Homo sapiens: one gene and its partners. The protein of the gene in region 3 purifies or fractionates together with the protein of the main gene of each other region. This does not show direct contact. Each region holds a gene or a part of one and is shown on either strand. Other genes may lie near its edges.

Evidence for each region. The genes of interacting proteins can lie anywhere in the genome.
Region 1: the proteins of RBMX (region 3) and P3H2 purify together in Homo sapiens (affinity purification with mass spectrometry; 3 studies listed by BioGRID and IntAct, with this or other methods). This does not show direct contact.
Region 2: the proteins of RBMX (region 3) and HPD purify together in Homo sapiens (affinity purification with mass spectrometry; 3 studies listed by BioGRID and IntAct, with this or other methods). This does not show direct contact.

Annotation. Positions count from the first base shown.
Region 1 is NC_000003.12:190,117,889-190,124,716, forward strand, and holds the start of P3H2 (prolyl 3-hydroxylase 2 isoform a precursor), read right to left. Parts: upstream 3,010-6,828; 5' UTR 2,844-3,009; coding exon 2,364-2,843; intron 1-2,363. UniProt on the Homo sapiens protein: Prolyl 3-hydroxylase that catalyzes the post-translational formation of 3-hydroxyproline on collagens. Contributes to proline 3-hydroxylation of collagen COL4A1 and COL1A1 in tendons, the eye sclera and in the eye lens capsule.
Region 2 is NC_000012.12:121,855,851-121,863,853, reverse strand, and holds the start of HPD (4-hydroxyphenylpyruvate dioxygenase), read left to right. Parts: upstream 1-4,994; 5' UTR 4,995-5,030; coding exon 5,031-5,033; intron 5,034-5,140; coding exon 5,141-5,167; intron 5,168-6,015; exon of another isoform or gene 6,016-6,034; coding exon 6,035-6,097; exon of another isoform or gene 6,098-6,235; intron 6,236-6,421; coding exon 6,422-6,526; intron 6,527-7,207; exon of another isoform or gene 7,208-7,228; coding exon 7,229-7,271; exon of another isoform or gene 7,272-7,447; coding exon 7,448-7,530; exon of another isoform or gene 7,531-7,601; intron 7,602-8,003. UniProt on the Homo sapiens protein: Catalyzes the conversion of 4-hydroxyphenylpyruvic acid to homogentisic acid, one of the steps in tyrosine catabolism.
Region 3 is NC_000023.11:136,877,710-136,885,096, forward strand, and holds the start of RBMX (RNA-binding motif protein, X chromosome), read right to left. Parts: upstream 3,017-7,387; 5' UTR 2,888-3,016; intron 1,745-2,887; 5' UTR 1,719-1,744; coding exon 1,610-1,718; intron 1,563-1,609; exon of another isoform or gene 1,490-1,562; intron 1,450-1,489; exon of another isoform or gene 1,415-1,449; coding exon 1,308-1,414; intron 378-1,307; coding exon 206-377; intron 1-205.

The DNA of each region.
Region 1 (6,828 bases), on a different chromosome or scaffold from region 3:
TGCCAGAGAAGAGAAGTAGGGAGAAGACGCAAGACTTGTTCTGCTCTCAGAAATATTGCTGGTAGAACTGAAATGAACACACGAAGCCACGGATCTTTGAAAGAACTTCTTAAACTTCATTAATTCATCAGACAACACCCAGTAATTCACTTACAGAGTGTGACTTGTTCCTGTAATCAATTCACCACAAAAATTTGAGGTATGTTAAACCTATGGCTTCACCTTCTTTGACCTCCAACCAGGGAACCGGAGGGGAAATGACTGACAAATGCTGACATTAACAGTGAAGCAAGCAGAATTCCAGAACCAGGGAAACCCACATATTGAGAGTTACCTCATGGTTATTTGTTTTTATAGGACTGACCTTGACTATGTATTCTTTCTCCAGATATGAGAAAGGAAAATATGTCCAAAATTTGTGACAGAATTAACAGCAGGACTGCTAACCTTACATCCGAGACTCCTGGGAGGACCAAGCTACAGGGACCACCCATGTTCTGCTCTGGGAACTAGCTTATGATAACTTCACCGTCAGACACTCAAGGTCCCCTCTCTGCCTGGTGTTGACTGATTTCTGTAAGACCACCAGAAATTGTGTAAATCACTTAGAAGAAATTAGAGTTATACTTCATACATGCCTTAGCAATCAGGAGGCACAAGCAAGCAGAAGACAAGTCCTGGAAAGGATTCAGACTTTCTCCTCATTTCTTGCCCAAGATACTAGTCCAGTGAACTCCAACACCTTAGCCACAACACAAGGAAGTTAAGATTTATACTTAGTTGAAATTTCGTGCACTCCACCAACAGTTGCCAATCTGAGAGAACCCTACCACAGATGAGGGCAGAGATCTTGTGGGATGAGCTGCAAAAGGCATTTGGATATTTGAACATGGTATGTACTTTCATCTCCTTAGAAACACAGCCTGGTCCAGCCGTGCTCACGCCTATAATCCCAGCACTTTTGGAGGCGGAGACGGACGGGTCACCTGAGGTCAGGAGTTCGAGACCAGCCTGGCCAACATGGTGAAACCCCTTCGCTACTAAAAATACACAAACACACACAAAAATTAGCCCGGCATGGTGGTGCACACCTGTAATCCCAGCTACTCAGGAGGCTGAGGCAGGAGAATCGTTTGAGCCCGGGAGGCGGAGGTTGCAGTGAGCCCAGATTGCACCACTGCACTCCAGCCTGGGTGACAAGAGCAAAACTCCGTCAAAAAAAGAAAAGAAAAGGAAGAGAGGAGAGGAGAGGGGAGGGGAGGGGAGGGGAGGGGAGGGGAGGGGAGAGGAGAGGAGAGGAGAGGAGGGGAGAGGAGAGGAGAAAAGAAAGCAAAGCAGAGCACAGCAGAGCAGAGCAGAGCAGAGCAGCCTGGTCCATTGGCTAGCATGAACAACCAACCCCAAAGCTTCCACTTTTCCGGTAGCTGTAGAAGATACATTGATATATTAACACAGAAAACGAGAAAGAAGGGTTAAGAGTGTCAATTTGAAGGAAAATTGGGTGAGTGGCAGTGGAGGTTGAAGAACTCATTCAAATTCCCTCTGCTGAAGCATCCAGAGAGATCTTCAAAGTTATGGATGTGAACAATATGTCAATATGCATACTATACCTCCTGACGCTAACTTTAGGCAAGTTAGGCATACAAAAATAAAACTAGAAAGAGAGGACTGATGCCTAGTAACCCAGTCCAATGCATACCACCAGAAAACGTAAGCCCTCTATCAAAGGAGAAAAAGTCAACACTTAGGGTGGATACTTTGACTGAGACTGCCTCAAACAGCTTCGCCTCCTCCAAGCATACCTTCTCTTTAACCTTTGATCTTTACTTTTTTGTAGGTGAAGGGGAGAAGAGAGAGAAATTTGTTTTGGAACAGGTCTTTCAACTTCACTATTTTGAAGATTCTTTTAAACTTCAGAGAAAAGGTGCAGACTACAGTATAGGAAGGATAAGAGAGAGGAGACAAAAGAAATGGGAAGTGAGAAGGGAGAAGAGAAATGGGAAGTGAGAAGGGAGAAGAGAAATGGGAAGTGAGAAGGGAGAAGATAAATTGTACTAGATTCAGCTTTGTCAATGCCTCATGAATTAGTGCTGAATGGGTACTTTAAACATCACCTTATCAGGACAGTCCTCTTTTTGAGAGAGAAGCTGGCTCTGAGAAAGAGAGAAAAAGACTTGTCCAAGTTAATCAATTGTTGCATACAGAGATAGGGCCACCAGATATCTGGATTCACAAACTGAGACACATATTTAAGGAGACCCAATTCGAAAGACTGAACAGAGATGACGGGGGCAGCAGGGAGGGCTCAAGAGAGCGTGTGAGAGCCGCAGGGGCTTTGCAGTGGAGGAGCGCTCTGTGGGTACCTTGATGTAGGCCCGCTGCAGGTAGTTGTAGGGCACTCTGCGCTGGAAGTCGCTGCGCACATCCTCGCTGACGCGGTGGCGGGATGCGGGGCCCCCGAGGCGCTGGGTCTCACAGCTGCGATAACAGCGCGCCCGCCCCAACAAGGAGCGGAAAAGGGGCAGCTCAGCGCCGGGGCCCTCGCCGGGGGGCGGGGGCGGGAGCGGGTGGCGCGCCGCGCAGTGGCGGGCACAGCGCGTGCGGATTTCCCGCAGGCGCCGGTGGCTGCGCAGCGCCGCTTCCAAGTCGCGCACCGCTCGCTCGTAGTCTCCGCTGTAGTAGGCGGCCGCGCCGCTGGCGTAGAGCAGGTCGAAGGGCTGCAGAGGCCCGGGCTCCAGCTCCAGCTCCCGGCGTGGGCTGTCCGGGGGGCCGCCCCACAGTGGCGGCGGCAGTAGCAGCGGCAGCAGCAGCAGCAGCGGCGGCGCCCAGATGCGCTCCCGCATCCTCCGCCTCAGAGAGGCGCGGGACGGTTACGCTCGAGAGGGCTTCGGGGCACCTCGCGTCCGGGTCCCCTCTCCCACCTTCCCTCGGGGAAGCGCGCCGACTCCGCCGCGATCTGGCCGCTCCGCGAGCCCCAGGTGACCGCCGGCGCTCCGCGTACTGAGAGGCGGAGGCCGTGCCTGGCCAGCCGCTCTTAAAGGGACGCCCACAGCTCACACGCTCCTCCTGCTGCCTGAGACTCCGAGAGCCGCTCTCCCAGGCTCCCCGCTGCAGCGGCGGGGCTGCCAGGGGCGGCACACTCCAGCGCCAGCCAGAGAGCTAGCGCCGCTTGAGGCCGGCCGGGGACGAGGCGCTTTACACGTGAGCTCCCTTCTGGTTGTACAAGTGGATAGTATTAGTCTTCTTTTTGGGAAATAAAGAAAATCCAGCTTAGCAAGGTTAGGGCCTTAATCATATTCTGGAATCTCTGTATGGCCTCGCAGTTTGCAGAGTGCTTCACCTTCTAAATGAAGCCTGGAGCGCCATTTCAGACTGAATCAAACCGTAGATGCCATGTGTACCTACGCAACAAATCTGCGCATTCTGCACGTGTATCCCGGAACGTAAAGTTAAAAAAAAAAAGAATAAATAAATAAATAAATAGAAAAAAAACCCATAGAGGCCCTGTAGGCCCAGATGCGGAGGTTTAAGAAGATAAGTGATTTGCCTAAATGCATAGAGCTGAGAAGTGGCAAAGGACGGACCCAACCCAGGGCCTTTAGAACCAAAGCTTACCGCTTCTTCTCTTGGGGAAGGTTTCTCCCTTACCTTTTCGTCCAACTTGGTGTGGATGTGTGTCCGGGCATTGGATCAGGGCGCTGGGCCAGGGGAAGAACAATATATAGCCTGCCTTTCCTGTGCAGCCCGTGGTTTTACAGGGCCCAGAGAACCTTTGGAGGCAGGAGGAGCTGTACTCGCATTCTGGCTCCGTCCGTTTACCAGCTGTGTGACCTTGGCAACTGAGGGCCTCAGTTTCCTCATCTCCTAAACAGCCAGACGCCTAACACGTAAAATGCTATTCAGAAAAAAATTCTTGCTGTGGGCCAGGTGCAGTGGCTCACCCCTGTAATCCCAGCACTTTGGGAGGCCAAGGCGGGTGGATCACCTGAGGTCAGGAGTTCGAGACCAGCCTGGCCACCATGGCAAAACCCCGTCTCTACTAAAAATACAAAAATTAGCTGGGCGTGGTGGCACGTGCCTGCAGACCCAGCTACTCAGGAGGCTGAGGCAGGATAATTGCTTGAACCTGGGAGGTGAAGGTTGCAGTGAGCTGAGATCATGCAGCCTGGGTGACAGAGTGAGACTCCGTCTCAAAAACAAAAAAAACAAAGAAAAAGAAAAGAGAGGAGAGGAGGGGAGGGGAGGGGACGGGAGAGGAGAGGGAAATTCTTATTCTAAGAGTTGAACAAAGAGGCAATTTAGTATATCCCTTACCTCAAGGAATTAAGCAATCTGCATCAATCTAGGAATGAGAAAGCTGACAGAAATGGTTGCCAGATTCCAAACGACTAGCTGGAGGCTTCCTGTTCCTCCCCTTCTCCTCTGTCACGAATACATTCTTAGCCAAGGTGTTCCCCTCTTTCGTGTTCCTTGGCTTCACACTCTCACAAGAATATTGGTTGGACCCTGGATCCCAGCCTGCCTCCTGGAGGCATTTCTGTGGTCTTCTAGTGCCTGTGAGAATCTCATCAGTCTTTCAGCCCCTGCAATGGTGAGCAGAGGGACAGGCAATGGGAAAAAGACTCACGCATGTATCTAGTTGCTATGATTTTTCCGAAGAAGGCTTTTATGTGGAATCACCACTACGCTGAGGGGCTTGCCAGAGATTCATGCTGATTCCTTCATTCATTTTGTTAGGTTTGACCACTCAGGCCATGAACAGCCCTGGCTGTGTAATTCCAAGAGACACTGATGAATCATGCTCTTTTTTTTTCCCACCAAACGTTACTAATTCGGCTCATATCACTGATGAAAAAGCTCCAGTTTGGAGCTGAATGTATATTGAATGCCTTGGATGGTCAGTGTTCCAGAATTAGCACATCAGTCATCTGCCCAGACTTTTTCTCTAGAGATTGTCTGTTTTCAGATAAAGATTTTGGAGTCTAGTCCAGGGTTATCAGTCCACTTGTGGAAGGTTTTGAAGCACATCAGGATAGGAACTCCTGCTGTGGGACTGAGGGCAAAGTGCCAGGATACCTTGCTACATTCTATTTGTACATTTGGTGACATTTCTACATCATTTAATATATTTCAATTAAATTAACAATTTTTGATGCCTACTCTTAAAGTAAATATTCTAGGTGAAAGAGAAGATAAGTCAGGATTCTTACCTTTGGGAAGCTCACAGTACTGTATAGGAAACAAATTTGATATATATAATGTATACAGCTATAATACAAGGTAGAATGTGGTACGTGTTAGATTAGATTGAAAGTGTTGGCCGGGCGCAGTGGCTCACACTTGTGATCCCAGCACTTTGGGAGGCCGAGGCAGGTGGATCACCTGAGCTCAGGAGTTGGAGACCAGCTTGGCCAACATGGTGAAATTCCGTCTCTACTGAAAATACAAAAATCAACTGGGCGTGGTGGCAGGCACATTTAATCCCAGCTACTCAGGAGGCTGAGGCAGGAGAATCACTTGAACCCGGGATGCAGAGGTTGCAGTCAGCCAAGATCGCGCCATTGTACTCCAGCCTGAGCCACAGAGTGAGACTCAGTCTCAAAAAACAAAAAGAAAAAAAAAAAAGAAGAAGAAAGAAAAAAGAGCTCTGGGAACACAGAGGTTACAAAGATAGCTTCTGGCTAGAAGGATCTAAAAAGACTTAGGGAAATAATTGGCATTAGCACACAGTCAATAGCCTATAGAATGCAACCACATCCTACTGATTGCCAAATTGGCCAGGTTCTTTCAAGCCTCTTGTATGTCCTACTACCTTATTTCTTATATCTTACTACAAGTAGTAAGTAAGTAATATGCCTTGTATTACTACCTTACGTACAATCTCTGCCTGACTTGAGAGAAACTATTCATTGACAACTCAAATTTGCTTGAACATTAGAATCACCTAAGAAGTGTCTGGCTTCTGCTCTGAAAGATTCTGATTTATTGGTCTGGGATATGACCTGAGCGATGGGATTTTTAGAAGTTTCCCAGGTGATTATAATACGAAGCCAAGGTTGAGAACCACAGGTCTACAGCTAATGCCACAGCCCAAAGAATAAGTCTATGAGTTGGGGTTCCAGGTGCTGTGTAGAATTCATGAGTAGGTAGGGTTTGGAGAATAGGTAGGGTTTTGTGTAATCCCCCAGATATTCCCTCCCAGGAAAGCCAATCTGATCTGCTTTTTAAGGCTGGATCAGGACAAAAAGTTCATGACCTTATGGTAATAAGAGCCATGCAGTGCCAAGAAGCTGATTCCAGGTCATGCTGTCCCAGTGGTACTTACTCAATGTTGGAACAGACAGTCATCCACGAGTCTCTTATACTCCTGAACTTCTCACAGAGTGTGCCAAGAATGTACTTTTTCCTTAAATAATTAACTGACTTCCATCTCAGAGTTCCGGATTCACTAAACCTGGGGTGGAGCTTTCAAATTTGCATTTCTAACTTGTTCCTTGATGATGTGCTGCCCATACTTTATTATCTGATTTCTTAGGAACAATGGTTCTAAAACTTCGTTGTGTTGTGAAAAAGCTAGTAAGATCGTGGAGACCCTGGATTTTTGAACTAGAATCTAGTCTGGGCCTTTATATTTTTACCAGTTTCTCAGGTGATGCAGATACTAACCAAAGGTTAAGATTCACAGCTTCAGTTAGAGCAGTGGTTCTCAATTGAGAGTGATTGTACTCCCCAGAGGACATTTCACATTATCTGGAGGTATTTTTGGTTGTCGGATCTGGGGCATGGTAGGTGGGAGCATTCATACTGTTGGTGTCTAGTGGGTAGAAC
Region 2 (8,003 bases), on a different chromosome or scaffold from region 3:
CCTGGATTTTCACAAATTTCCAAAATGGGCTTATATAACTCTCCACCCTTTTCTTTCTTTTTTTTTTTCTTTTAGAGACAGGGTCTCATTCTGCTGCCCAGGCTGAAGTGCAGTGGTGCAATTATAGCTCACTGTACCCTTGAACTCCTGGGCTCAAGGGATCCCCCCATCTCAGCCTCTTAAAGTGCTGGGATTACAGGTGTCAGCCACTGCTCCTGGCTCGCCACCAATGCTTTTCATTCTGATCATTTCTGTAGTGAGCAGCATAGAAGAAATAATGCCTTTTGAGGGACAGTTGCATTTAACAGACAGCCTTACTAAGGTGAGTACGTCAGGACAAAGATGCGGGAAGGAGAATCAGGCTATTAGTCCATTGTTGCAAATTGCAACGAATTGAGAAAGTCAGACACAACGATCAACTGCAGTGAAACATTTGGTGGGGAGTTTTGAGAGTCCAGTCTGAAGGAGTGCGTGGAAGGATCACGGTCCCTGTGATGTACCCTCTCTCGGCTTGTTGCTTTGGGCAGGAATCACAAGTTAGGAAGGAATCAGCACCAGAAATGCAGAGCTGGCTGGGCGCAGTGGCTCACGCCTGTAATCCCAGCACTTTGGGAGGCCGAGGCGGGAAGATCACCTGAGGCCAAGAGTTCGAGATCAGCCTCGCCAACATGGCGAAGCCCTGTCTCTGATAAAAAATACAAAAATTAGCTTGGTGTGGTGGCGCATGCCTGTAGTCTTAACTACTTGGGAGACTGAGGCGGGAGAATCACTTGAACCTAGGAGGCGGAGGTTGCAGTGAGCAGAGATCACGCCATTGCACTTCAGCTTGGGAGACATCCCAAGACCATCTTAAAAAAAAAAAAAGGAGGGGGGGTGCCGGGCGCGGTGGCTCACGCCTATAATCCCGGCACTTTGGGAGGCCAAGGCGAGCGAATCACGAGGTCAGGAGATTGAGACCATCCTGGCTAACACGGTGAAACCTCATCTCTACTAAAAATACAAAACATTAGCTGAGCCAGGTGGCAGGTGCCTGTATTCCCAGCTACTCCGGAGGCTGAGGCAGGAGAATGGCGTGAACCTTGGAGGTGGAGCTTGCAGTGAGCCGAGATTGCACCATTGCACTCCAGCCTAAAAAAAAAAAAAAAAAAAAAAAAAGCTTGCATTGAGCCGAGATGCCAAGATCACGCCACTGCACTCCAGCCTGGGCCACAGAGGGAGACTCTGTCTCAAAAAAAAAAAAAAAAAAAAAAAAAAAAAGGCCGAGAGCGGTGGCTCACGCCTGTAATCCCAGCACTTTGGGAGGCCGAGGTGGGCAGATCACCTGAGGTCAGGAGTTCGAGACATGCCTGACCAACATGGTGAAACCCCATCTCTACTAAAAATACAAAATTAGCTGGGCGTGGTGGCACATGCCTGTAATCCCTGCTACTTGGGATGCTGAGACAGGAGAATCGATTGAACCTGGGAGGCGGAGGTTGTAATAAGCCGAGATCGCACCATTGCACTCCAGCCTGGGCAGCAAGAGCGAGACTCCGTCTCAAAAAAAAAAAAAAAAGAAATGCAGAGCTGAAGAGCAGCCCAATGTAAATGGTCCCATTAGAGAGGAACTCTTTCATCATGGACATCTGTAAGTGACCCACACTGTCCAGCAGCATCCACGATGTTTGCACAGCATATGGCCCCAGGGAGGGATGTCTCTAATCTGCCAGGGTCCTAGAGTTAAAGTCCTGTGTGTTGAGTGGAGCAATTTTGCCCATTTTTTTAGTTTGGCAGAATTCATGCTGACACTGAAACAGCTCACAGCAGACAGCATCAGGTTTCAGCATTTTTTTTTCTCTTTTTTTAAGACAGGGTCTCACTCTGTCACCGAGGCTGGAGTGCAGTGGTGCGATCATAGCTCATTGCAGCCTCGACCTCTTGGGCTCAAGCAACCGTCCCCTTGCAGAGCTTTCAGCTTGGGATCAGGTTTGGAAAACTAGAATTCGTGAATTCAGGATTTTCTTCTGCAGTAGCTAAGCCAAGAGACTGTTTGTCTCGAGGCTAAGAGCGAAGCGAGGCTTTCTTAAGCCCTTTAAGTCTGTCAGTTTCAGAGCCCGGGTGGACGCCTGTAAAAAGATCCCTATCAGCTAGAAAATCATGACTCTAAGGGTCAGCTGTGTGGTTTCACAAGGGCTCATTAGCAACTAAAAACTGCTTTTTAAAACCCTGAAAGTGTATCTCCATTTAGAGATTGCCTCTTTTTCATGTTTTTTTCCAGAAGCTGTAATATTAGCAAACACTATAGTAAGAACTATCAGTAACTGAGACTTGTTCCATTTTATTTACTTACTTACTTACTTATTTCTTTATTTTGAGACAGGGTCTCATTCTGTCGCCCAGGCTGGAGCGCAGTGGCACAATCTCGCATTGCAACCTCCACCTCCTGGGTTCAAGTGATTCTCCTGCCTCAGCCTCCCAAGTAGCTGGGTGGGATTACAGGCACACACCACCACACCCAGCTAATTTTTTTTTTTTTTTTGAGACAGAGTCTTACTCTGTTGCTCAGGCTGGAGTGCAGTGGCATGATCTCGGCTCACTGCAACCTCCACCTCCTGGGTTCAAGCAATTCTCCTGTCTCAGCCTCCCAAGTAGATGGGACTACAGGTGCCTGCCACCATGCCCAGCTAATTTTTGTATTTTTAGTAGAGACGGTGTTTCACCATATTGGTCAGGCTGGTCTCAAACTCCTGACCTCAGGTGACCCACCCGCCTCAGCCTCCTAAAGTGCTAGGATTATAGGCATGAGCCACTGCATCCAGGCTAATTTTTGTATTTTTAGTAGAGATAGGGTTTCACCATGTTGGCCAGGCTGGTCTCGAACACCTAACCTCAAGTGATCCTCCCTCCTCGGCCTCCCAAAGTGCTAGGATTACAGGTGTGAGCCACTGGGCCCTGCCTTATCTATTTTTGATACAAGTTCTCACCCTGTTCCCCAGGCTAGAGTGCAGTGGCGTGATCATAGCTCACTGCAACCTTTAACTCCTGGACTCAAGTGATCCTCCCACCTCAGCCTCCTGAGTGGCTGGGGACTACAGGTGCTCACTACCAGGCCCAGCTAGGTGAATGCTTTTCTGCACACCAGGGTATTTTCAAGGATGCGTCCTATGAACCCATCTGATCAGTGAGCTTCTTGAGCAAGGCCTCTGGAACCCACCTCTGCATGGTCGGGCATGAAGAACAGAGACAGTCACACCCAGCCACTGCTGATCTGTTATCCAGTGGAGCCCAGCCTGAACAGAGAGCATCAGGGAGGGGACTCTGGATACTGGGCCCTGCAGGCTTGCCTCCCTGCTCTCTGCCCAGACATGTGAATGGCATCTAGGGGTGCACCCAGCATGGGACTGAGACCTACAGTGTTGGGGACAGAGTTCCTACCTCTAGATGCCTGCCAGCCTTTGCAACCCACTGCTGTTGACACACTTCCTTGAGTTAGTAAACATTGGCCTTTGTGCTTAGCATATAAGCCAGGGCAGGCTCCAGGAGTGGGGGTTTGAGTTGGCCACAGCAATCAAAGTGACAAGATGTTCCTGCTGGCCTGGAGGGGATAGGCAGGCTACACAGAGCTCTTCTCCTCCATGGGAACCTTCTGGGCCTGTGAGATCCACCCTGGGCCACCTCCACTCAAGTTTTCCCAGTTGGATATTTATTTATTTATTTGAGATGGAGTCTCACTCTGTCACCCAGGCTGGAGGGCAGTGGCATGATCACTGCTCACTGCAATCTCTGCCTCCTTGGTTCAAGTGATCCTCCTGCCTCAGTCCCCTGAGTAGCTGGGACTACAGACGTGCACCACCGTGCCCAGCTAATGTTTGTATTTTTAGTAGAGATGAGGTTTTACCATGTTGCCAGGCTGGTCTCAAACTCCTGGCCTCAAGTGATCCTCCCTCCTTGGCCTCCCAAAGTGCTGGGATTACAGGCGTGAGCCACCACCCCCGGCCCCCAGTTGGAAATTTAGACTTAAGGAGCTGAGGTGGACACTGGGAGCACACTGGGCAGGCCCAGGACAGGCAGAATAAGGGGGTGGGACCACCTTGCCTGCCTCCTGAATGGCCCAGAAAATAGAGAAAAGGAGGGAGAAGTGGTCTGCACTGGTGCAATGAGATCCAACTTCAGAATCAAACAGGCCAGAGTTTGGGGCTCTGCTCTTACCAGTTCCATGACCTGGGAGACATGTGTTCACCTCTCCAGGCCTCAGTTTCCCCATCTGATGGGGATATCAATATCTCCCATTTGTATAGAGGGCAATCTAGCAATTTAAAGTGTGGGTCCTGGAGTTAGAATAGCCCGGTTCATGTTCCAGTTCTTCCCTGCCGCTTGCTGACCTCATGGCCTAGGAATGTTCTCTGTCCCAATGAATTATAACCAACACTGAGAGTGTCCTGTGTGCCAGGTCCTGTTCCAAAGAGCGTGCTTATCTCCTTTAATCCCCACCACACTATTCTCATTCCTGTTTTACAAATGAGGCTCAAAGGGATATGGTGATTTTCCCAAGTCACACTGTATGTAACAGAGCCAGGATGCAAACCTTCTCCTGCCGTGCCTCTCAGAGCTATGGAATACAACGCTGTGACGCAAACAGGACTTTGGGGCCAGTCTCCAAATGCCCCCTCAAATTTCCTCTAGGCAAGAGTTCTGGAGCCGCCACTGCACTCCAGCCGGCCTTGGCTTCTGAGCTTTGGATTCTGGGCAGTAATGGTCACATTCCCAGCGTCCTGGAAAAGCTTGCCCTTGGCTTCTGGCCCTGACTCTGCCTCCCACTGACTAGTGGACGTCACTGCCCCTCTCTGGGCCTGGCAACACCATCCTGTTCAATGAGGCTGCGGCTGGATCAGAGGTCCCCAGGCCTGGAACCTTCCAGGGCTGGGCTCAGCTCCCCACCCCATCCCCCAGGTAGGCCAGGAGGCCTGGGCGGGACCTGCTTGGGGTTAAATACTCCGGCCCAGCACTCCCCAGGCCTCTAGTCCCAGTAGGAGGTTTGACTAAGATCAATCATGGTAAGTGCCATGGCCATCTCCCCTTGGGTGGGACATCTTCAGTAACGCTTCCAGAAGCACCTTGTGTTGGAACCTCCAAGTCTCACTGTCCTTCTTTTTCTCCTTAGACGACTTACAGTGACAAAGGGGCAAAGGTAAGCAGGCGAAATGTGGGAAATGTAGGGGCCTGAGTCTAGAAGGGGGTCGGAGTGCAGGGAGACTGGGGTTTCAGCAGAGAGCAGAAGAGGAAGGACTGGAGTGGATACATGACGTGCATGCCTGCACACTCAGCTTTACCCCCGGGGCTCCCCGAGACTGAGCTGGACTCAACCTCACCCTCACAACAAACTTGTATCCTGGCCGGGCATGGTGGCTCATGCCTGTAATCCCAGTGCTTTGGGAGGCCAAGGCAGGCAAATACTTGAGGTCAGGAGTTCGAGACCAGCCTGGTCAACATGAGGAAACCCCGTCTCTACTAAAAATACGAAAATTAGCCGGGCATGGTAGCGCACCCCTGTAATCCCAGCTACTCAGGAGGCTAAGGTGGGGGAGATCACTTGAACCCTAGGATCGCTTGAACCTGGGAGGCGGAAGTTGCAGTGAGCCAAGATTGCACCACTGCACTCCACTCCAGCCTGGGCAATAGAGCAAAACTCCATCTCAGAAACAAAAACCAAAACAAAACCTGTACCCCTTCTCAAATGCCTGCCAATCTTTTAATCCCATCTGGAAGTTCTTTCTAAGGTCTAACTTAAATCCATATTGCTGCAACATAAGTCTATTTCCCTGTGTGAAACCTTGGCAGGCCTCCTGAGGGGGTTTCCCCATCCAAGACACCCAGGAGCTCAACTTCCACATGAGAAACCTCTTTTGAGGCTTGGCAAGGCTGCATGGGGTTCCGCTGCTCCTAAGTTCTGTGGTTGAGGCTGGAATAAGGAGGGTGGCTAGGGGACATCACTCCACCCGCACTTTTCTAGACTCACTTTCAGGGACTCAACCTCACCTCTTCTCTCCTTCTGCAGCCTGAGAGAGGCCGATTCCTCCACTTCCACTCTGTGACCTTCTGGGTTGGCAACGCCAAGCAGGTAGAAGCCGGGGCAAGGTGCTGGAGTGAGCAGACGGCAGGGCAGAGGGCTGCCTGACAAGGGCAGGCCTCCAGCAGGGTCTGTGATTGGCCCTTGGGAGGGAGGATCAGGCCAGGGGTGGGCCAGATACTCTGAATCCTAATTACACCAGCGGGAAAGTTATCTGTCAGCAAAATGTGCAGGCAGCAGTCTATCTTCCCAGGAGGGTCTCTGCCCCTGAGGCAATAGGGCAGGCAGGCTGAGGGGGGCCAGGGGCTCTCTTGCGGAAGTCCCCCATGCTGGCCCCTTGACCCTCATGAACCCTGCTGCAACCCTGTGATTCAGGCCACGTCATTCTACTGCAGCAAGATGGGCTTTGAACCTCTAGCCTACAGGGGCCTGGAGACCGGTTCCCGGGAGGTGGTCAGCCATGTAATCAAACAAGGGAAGGTGAGTCACCACCCCCAGGACAGCCCCCAACCCCTGCCTGGCCAACATGGTGAAACCCCATCTCTATTAAAAATAGAAAAATTAGCTGGGCATGATGGTGGGCACCTGTAATCCCAGCTACTCAGGAGGCTGAGGCAGGCACATCGCTTGAACCCGGGAGGCAGAGGTTGCAGTGAGCCAACGTCGTGCCACTGCACTCCAGCCTGGGCGACAGAGCAAGACTCCATCTCAACAAAAAAAAACAAAAAACAACAAAAAACCCCAACAACAACAACAAAAACATATAATTCAGCTCCCACCGACCCCTCCGCTGGCATCTTTGTACAGCCATGCAACACGGCCCTTCCTAGTTTCGTTTCCTCCTCAGCCTGGCCCAACACTGACCCCACAGGTGCTCAGAAAACCTGGGATATCAGAGGAGAGGAATTTTAAGCAGTGCCCTGACCGATGGGGTCCCTGGAGTTCTCTCCCCGAGGGAGACCTGACCTAGCAGTTCCTCTGAGGATCCAGAGGGGGTCTGGCTGAAAGCCCCATCCCTCAGGACCAGTGTGGGAAACTAAGGCAGAGAAGGAGCTAGAACCCAGGTCCAGGAGTTCTTGTGCTCCATCAGGGGTGTTTCGGGTCGGCAGGGAGGGGCCGATGGGTGCACCTCCCCATGCCCCCCTGAGCCACTAGCCTCACCTCCTTCTCCTCCTATCTTAGATTGTGTTTGTCCTCTCCTCAGCGCTCAACCCCTGGAACAAAGGTGAGGTGCCCGGGGAGGGTGGACGCATGGCTCTGTGGGTGGGATCTGGGTTCTGGGAGGGTGGACGCATGGCTCCGTGGGTGGGCTCTGGGTTCAGGGCCTGGATGGAGACTAAAAGCCAGGTGAGGGGACCTAGACTCCAGACTCCAGTGCCATCCTCTCCCTGCCGGCCACAGAGATGGGCGATCACCTGGTGAAACACGGTGACGGAGTGAAGGACATTGCGTTCGAGGTGGAAGATTGTGACTACATCGTGCAGGTAAGAAAGCACCTGGGTGGACTGAGAGAGGAAGGCCTCCGTCTGCCATGGGGACCCCATCAGTCAGGGCTGGAAGGACACTGCTGCATCACAGTGACAAGCCCAGATGCCACATCACAGTGACAAGCTCAGATGCTGCATCACAGTGACAAGCCCAGATGCTGCATCACAGTGACAAGCCCAGATGCTGGTGTGACACACACCTGGGCTCCGGGGGTGCCCTGCCTTCCCCCGTGTCCTCTCTCTCACTGAGCCTCAGTTTCCACAGCTGCCAGATGGGGCTAACCACAGCTGGGTTGTCAAAGGAGGAAATTAGAATTACCATTTCCTTTTTTTTTTTTTTTTTTTTTTGTGAGACGGAGTTTTGCTCTTGTTGCCCAGGTTGGAGTGCAATGGCACGATCTCGGCTCACCGCAACTTCTGCCTCCTGGATTCAAGCAATTCTCCTGCCTCAGCCTCCTAAGTAGCTAGGA
Region 3 (7,387 bases):
AGAAGTAACACTGTCCACGGTTTAACACCATAATCTAAAACATGCTTCCCATGCTTTCAATTGGCAATCACTTTGGTAGATGAACAAGTGTTGTCAATTTCAAAAGTTGGCACCTTTCCTCAAGGACTTAACCAAAGCATCCACTTGGTGTGAGCTTGCAGTCCCTAACTTATACACCAAACCCGAGGTCCACGCAAGTTATTACCCATGTGTCCTCCCCGTGAGGGAGGTCCCCTGGTTCCTCCACTTCCTCCTCTTCCACCTCTAAGACCTCTTGGAGGGCCTCTACTTCTTGGAGGTGGAGGCGGTCCACGTCTACCACTTTCAAATGATGGTTTGGTGGCTTGTTCCACCTTGATGGCTTTTCCATCTAATGACTAAAAAAAAAGATACGATTAAATTAAATCAAGATTTAAAAATAATTTGCACATCTACTATGCACTAAGACACTAACTGGTCCTTCAAAATGCAGTTATGGGTAAGTGTTGCTCATTAGTCTAAGAAAAAACACTGCAAATATAGTCAGTTTACATAAATGGGGCTTTTCCGCTTAAAATTCTTAATACTTAAAACCGATACTGATGATCTGGATTGAAACATAAGGTGAACCCACTGCATTATTGTATGGTAAAATTTAAAACAAGGCCAAGTAGGTATCAGCTTGTTATCAAAACTAGTAGCCAAAACCAAAAGCCAAGTTATCAAAATATGGCTTATGGATCTCAAGATAAAATGTATCATGTTGGCTGGGCGCAGTGGCTCGCAGTGTCTCACACCTGTAATCCCAGTACTTTGGGAGGCGGAGGCAGCTGGATCACCTGAAGTCAGGAGTTTGAGACCAGCCTGGCCAACATGGTGAAACCCTGTCTCTACTAAAAATACAAAGTTAGCCGGGCGTGGTCGCGCATGCCTGTAATCCCAGCTACTGGGGGGGGGGGGGGGGGCTGAGGCAGAAAAATCGCTTAGAACTCGGGAGACAGGCTGCAGTGGGCACTGCACCATTGCACTCCAGGCTAGGCAACGGAGGGAGACTATCAAAAAAAAAAAAAAAAAAGTACCATGTAATGCCATAATTATTCTGAACTGAGAGAATGTTACGAGCATAAGATATAACTCACTACTAGATTTGGTTCTGCAATTACAGAATACTCTTTGGAACAGGATCACAAACAGGATGAGTGGATCCCAGACAGGTATATACTGAAAAACAACGAAAACTCAAAAGCTGTCCTAGACCAGACTTGGACAACTACATGTTATTTTATGCACTAGTAACAGGTTATCATCCATCGTGTAGACAATCTCACCTTTCCATTCATGTCTCTGGCTGCATCCTTAGCGTCTGCTGGGCTTTCAAAGGTGACAAAAGCAAATCCTCTTGATTTGTTGGTTTCACGGTCTTTCATCAAGAGTACTAAAAAGTAGTTTTCAGAAAAATAAAGTGTTACCCTAGGTCAAATGAAATAACCAAAGTAAATGTGTAAACAGAAAGCTCAGAACTTCTTAGAGGACAAAAATACATTATCATGTCAGACGATCAATGCAATCAAATTCATCATAGCTTATATTTTAATTATAATAGCCCAGCCTGTACTGCCAGACAACTCACCTTCCACTATTCGTCCATATTTGCCAAATACTGCTTCAAGAGCTTTCTCATTTGTTTCCGTATTAAGCCCACCAATGAAGAGCTTTCCTGGGCGATCTGCTTCAACCATGTTTTTTTTTTTTTGGGCCGGTGAGTCTGTTGAAAAGGAATAGTATTACCTCACTGCAAAAAGTTCCTCAAGTTTATTGGACACTTTTACTTTCGCACATTTCTCATATTTTCCACTAAAACCATTGTTCCTTAATAACTAAAGAAAACGATAACGAGCTAAGCCTCAGCCACAGTAGGAAGCAATTTGAACTAAGTAGTTTAGTAACACTGCAATTTACATAAAACTGGTTAAAAGGGCCAACTTAACTTTTACCACTACCCTTGATCACCCTTAGCTGTTCTTAAGCAACAGCTGCTTAACATTTGAAAAAGCAACTTTTAGTTCCAGTCCTCTTGCCTTTGAAAGATTCAATTACTCATCACACCCTTCCTAACGATGGTTTTAAAAGACTCCCAAGGTCACAGGCTAGACACAGGACCTTAACACCAAGCCCTCTTCCAACGACTCCTCTTTTCCTCATTAGGATTCCCTACTAAATCCAAGGAGAAATGTGAAGTTTAAGCCAAGTTATGCCGCCCCTCTTCTTCACCGGCCCCCGCCCTACCGAAAATTCTACTATCCGGCCAAAAAGATAAAAACAAATCGTCAACATCGTTTGCTATTAAGTAACGGAACGCGGACGCACACACTAACACTCGACACTCCGTGACTGCAGCGGAACCTAATTAAAACTCGTCATTAAAAACCGCGTGTAAAAGACAAAATGGCGACACTTGGATTCAACCCAGAACCACCGACACTGGTCAGGGGACTAACTTTTACCACCAACATTGGCTGGGAACATTCAGAGGGCTTCTTCTCCGGGGCCGCCAATGAATACGAAGCCCGCAGCCCGCATGGAAGTCCACATGCCCATCATTAGCGCCAGCGCCATACCAATGCAGGTATCGCCGTGGTGCGGTCGCTCCTCGCCCCGCTCCAGCCTACAAAGCCCCGACCTCCGCTACCAACTCCCGCAGATGGCAGCCAAACTTTCTCGAGAAGCATACAACCAAACGGGCCCCCTCATTTGTTTTCCCTCGACCCCCTCAGCTTTATTTAAATAGGTCGGAACCTTTGGGTTCTTAAAATGGCGCCCGCCACCCCCATCTCCAGGGAGATATAATCCCCAGTCCTAACACGGGGAGAGTGTCACGAAAAACGGACTGAGGAAAGGAGACACGTACCGGAGGGGTGACAATGGGTTCAAGCTCCAACGAGCTCGGCGATAGGGGCTTCCTAGCAGCTCAGCACCAGTGGCGGCTGCCGGGTGCGAGGACCGAACCGCGAAGCCGCTAGCACTACTGCGCAACGAGGGCGAACAAAGGAGACAGCAAACTTTATACTGCCCGGGAACGAGGCTGAAGGACCCGGATGGAAACGGAGCTTAGAATTTGAAACGCAAAGGGAGGGGGGAAGTAGTTCCCAGTCTCCCCATTGGCTGGCTCCTCTGTCATTCACCCTTCTCTCCTCCCTTTTTCCCGGGCCCTCGGTGTTGGGTCGACAGACCTTTCTAACCGTTTTCTCTACCCCCACCCGTTCTTTACAAACGCGCTTTTTTTGCTTTACGCTAAAATGGTGCACAGGCTTCCTTTAATAAAGAACTGAAGTTTATTGAGCGTCCTAGTGGGCCGGGCACGGTGCAAAACTTTACTTTTACTTTTCCATTAACTCTTCTAATTGTCAAAATGTGATGAGGGTAGATACTCCTACTATACCAATTTTGCAGAAACGGAAAACAAAGAAGTTTTGGCAATATAATATATTTTCAAAAATTGTCTTTAACAAGTGTTTTTAGTGAGTGTGGGAATTTCTGATAAATACATGTAAATTTCAGATGAGTAAAAAACGTACAAAACAGCATGCAGATAGTACATTCATATAGAACAATTACTGAGCACCTTGTAAATGGTGGGCTCTGGGCTAGGCCAGGAAAATACAACTCCAGGGAAAAGACAAGAGTCAGGCCTGTGGGTAAGGATGCCGGATTTAATAAATGAAAATACCAGGCCGGGTGCAGTGGCTCACGCCTGTAATCCCAGCACTTTGGGAGGCCAAGGTCGGTGGATCACGAAGTCAGGAGATGGAGACCATCCTGGCTAACACGGTGAAACCCCGTCTCTTTTTAAAAATACAAAAAATTACCCAGGCGTGGTGGCACGCGCCTGTAGTCCCAGCTACTCGGGAGGCTGAGGCAGGAGAATCCGGGAGGCGGAGGTTGCAGTGAGCCAAGACTGCGCCACCGCACTCCAGCCTGGGCAGGCGACAGAGCGAGACTCCGTCTCAAAATAAAAAAGAAAATGCGGGACGCTAATTTATTCTGCGAAGCTGTTAAAAAATTTTAAATAAAAATATGGGACGCGGCCGGGGCGCGGTGGCTCATGCCTGTAATCCTAGCACTTTGGGAGGCCGAGGCGGGCAGATTGCCTGAGCTCAGGGGTTTGAGACCAGCCTGGGCAACATGGTGAAACCCCGTCTCTACTAAAATAAAAATAAAAAATAAAAAAATTAGCCGGGCGTGGCGGCGTGTGCCTGTAGTCCCAGCTACTCGGGAGGCTGAGGCAGGAGAATTGCTTGAACCCAGGAGGCGGCGGTTGCAGTGAGCCAAGATCATACCACTGCACTCCAGCCTGGCAACAGAGCGAGACTTCGTCTAAAAAAAAAAAAAGGGACGCCCAGTTAAGTTTAAATTTCAGATAACGAATACTTTTTTTAGTATAGTATGTCCCAAATCTCATATTTTAAAAATTCGCTGTTTATCGGAAATTCAAATTTAACTGAGCATTCTATATTTCATCTGCCCATCCTACTTGTTGAGGGGGGAAACCAAAAAATTTTTTAATTTTTTTCTTAAAGAAATTGAATACAATTAACAAAAGAATGGCATGTTGTGATTAATGCCAGGGAGGAAATAAACTAGTTGCTTTGATGGACAATATTAGGGAGAACAAATTTGATTAAAACATCAGGGAAGGTCTATGTGAAGAGGTGACTTTGGAGATCAGAGCTGAAGGAAGAAAAGAAACTAGCTATGGGAACAGCTGAGGGAAAAACCTTCAGGAAAAGAAGAGAATAGTAAACACAAAGTAGAGAGGAAGAGCTTGGCATATATCAAGGGACAGAAAGAGGGCCAGGTGACAAGAATATGAGGGGCATGAAATGAGGGAGCCAAGATTGGCAGGACCTTTGAGCCCATTAAATGACTGTAGGGGGTAAGTGTGGGAAAAAGGACACTAATAGGGCTGTGGGAGCAGACCAGAAAGAGAGGATGGTGGCTTGAATCAGGGTGGCGGCAGTGGACACGGGGAGGAAAGAACAATTGTTAGATGAATATGATAGGTATCGTGTTTAATGGTGCTATGGTCTAAATGTTTGTGTCCTCCCCCAAATTCATATGTTGAAATCCTAATACCCAAGGTGATGGCATTAGGAGGCGGGGATTTGGGGAGAAGATTAGGTCACAAAAGGGTAGGGTCCTCATGAATGGGATTAACACTTTTATAAAAGAGGCCCCTGTCCACCATGTGAGAACACAGTGAGGTGCCACTTATATGAACCAGAAAACTGGTGGTGGTGGGCCCTCACCAGACACTGAATATGCTGGCGTCTTTATCTTGGACTTCCCAGCCTACAAAAATGTGAGAAATAAATTTCTGTTGTTTATAAGCCAGCCAGTTTATGGTATTTTGTTATAGTAGCAGGAATGGACTAAGACAGATGGGAAAGGGGTGGGGAAGAATTGCGGAAAAAGAAAATCATTATGGATGACTCCAAGTATCTGGTATTAGTGGGACAGATGGTAACAGTCATTTACCAAAATGGTTTCAGAGGAGCAAGTTTGGGATATAGGGGCAGAAAAATCTGAAGCTCAGAGCATAGATCTGTGCTAAATTATCATCTCAGAGATGTAATAAAAGCCATCAGAATGAATGAAACCACCAAACAAGAGAGTACAGTGGGAAAAGAAGGCCCAAGATCACATAATATGAGCTATTAAAAAAATACATATGGAGACAAAATAACTGGGAGGAAATATGCCAAAATGTTACCAGTTTATCTTGGAGTGGTAGAATTTATGGACAATTTTCACTTTTCTTCTTCTTCTTCTCCTTTTTTTTTTGTTTGTTTTTTTGTTTTTTTGAGAAAGAGGTTCGCTCTCATTGCCCAGGCTAGAGTGCACTGGTGCGATCTTGGGTCACTGCAACCTCTGCCTCCCGGGTTCAAGCGATTCTCCCGTCTCCGCCTCCTGAGTAGCTGGGATTACAGGCATACGCCACCATGCCCGGCTAATTTTGTATTTTTAGTAGAGACAGAGTTTCACCATGTTGGCCAGGCTGGTCTCAAACTCCTGACCTCAGGTGATACGCCCGCCTCGCCCTCCCAAAGTGCTGAGATTACAGGCCTGAGCCACCGTGCCGGGCCTTTTCTTCTTCATAGTTACAATTACCTGCCCATGGTGAATTTTGGTATATGCCAGGCAGGTTGTAGTAAATAATATTCAGGTCACGGGTAAAAGCCCCCAAGGAGCTTCGAAACCAGCTCTGAATTATTAACATTAATAGGGGGAGTAATGCCCAGTAGGACAAGAATATTTGTTCTTGTTTTTTTTCCCCCAGCCAAATAATAAAAAGTAAGGCAAAACTCATGTCCATTTGCCTTTTGAATGAGTTCTGTAAATTATAGACTCTGGAGTCATTTGGGAACTGGCAAAAATGGCTTAAATACCAGGCTCAGCAAGCAGAACTTGTACTCCCAGAGGTAGCCAGGAGAAATCCCTCACCCTGTGGAAGCAGGCACTCTCTTTCTCTGTCTCAAATCCAAAGAGAGACTACAGGACTCTCCTCTAGGCTCTGAGTGTAAATCAGGTCTCCTCTAGTCTAGGGCAAAATGGGGCAGGCTCGACAATAGATAACCCTGTCCTCCTGGGTCTCAAAAAGGAAATGTGCATCCCCGTAGACCAGCTCACTTTGGCCTCTGCAGTTCACACCCAGGAATGTGGGGGAGGAGAAGTAGCATGCTGGCGGTGTTGGATGCAAACACAATTCCCAAGGACCAAAAGCGAGTGGGTGGGGTGGGGATGGCTAAGTTAAAGGAATTGTAGGAGGGGATCAGTTGGCCATATCGTCCAGGACAGAGAGGAAAAAGAAGCAGCTTGTGGGGGAAGCAGAGTGCTACTGACTAGATCTAGAGGGCAATGGAGAGGGGAGCCTTTTTTTTTTTTTTGAGACGGTGTTTCGCTCTTTCGACCAGGCTGGAGTGAAGTGGCGCAATCCCAGCTCACTGCAACCTCCGCCCCCCGGGTTCAAGCGATTCTCCTGTCTCAGCCTCCCAAGTAGCTGGGATTACAGGTGTCCACCACCATGCCAGGCTAATTTTTGTACTTTTAGTAGAGACGGGGTTTCGCCATGTTGGCCAGGCTGGTCTCGAACTCCTGACCTCAGGTGATCCACCCACCTCGGCCTCCCAAAGTGCTGGGATTACAGGCGTGAGCCACTGAGCCTGGCCGAGAGGGGAGCCTTTTTAAGAGGTGGAGTAAGGTAATCAGATTTCATCTTAATGAGATTACTGTGGTTGCAGTCTGGAGACTGTATTGGGGGAGGGAGAGACAGGAAGCAGGGAGACAAATCAGAAGGGTATTGCTGATGTAATGCAGGAGAGGGGGGACGTGGGCGTGCTGAGTGTGAGGG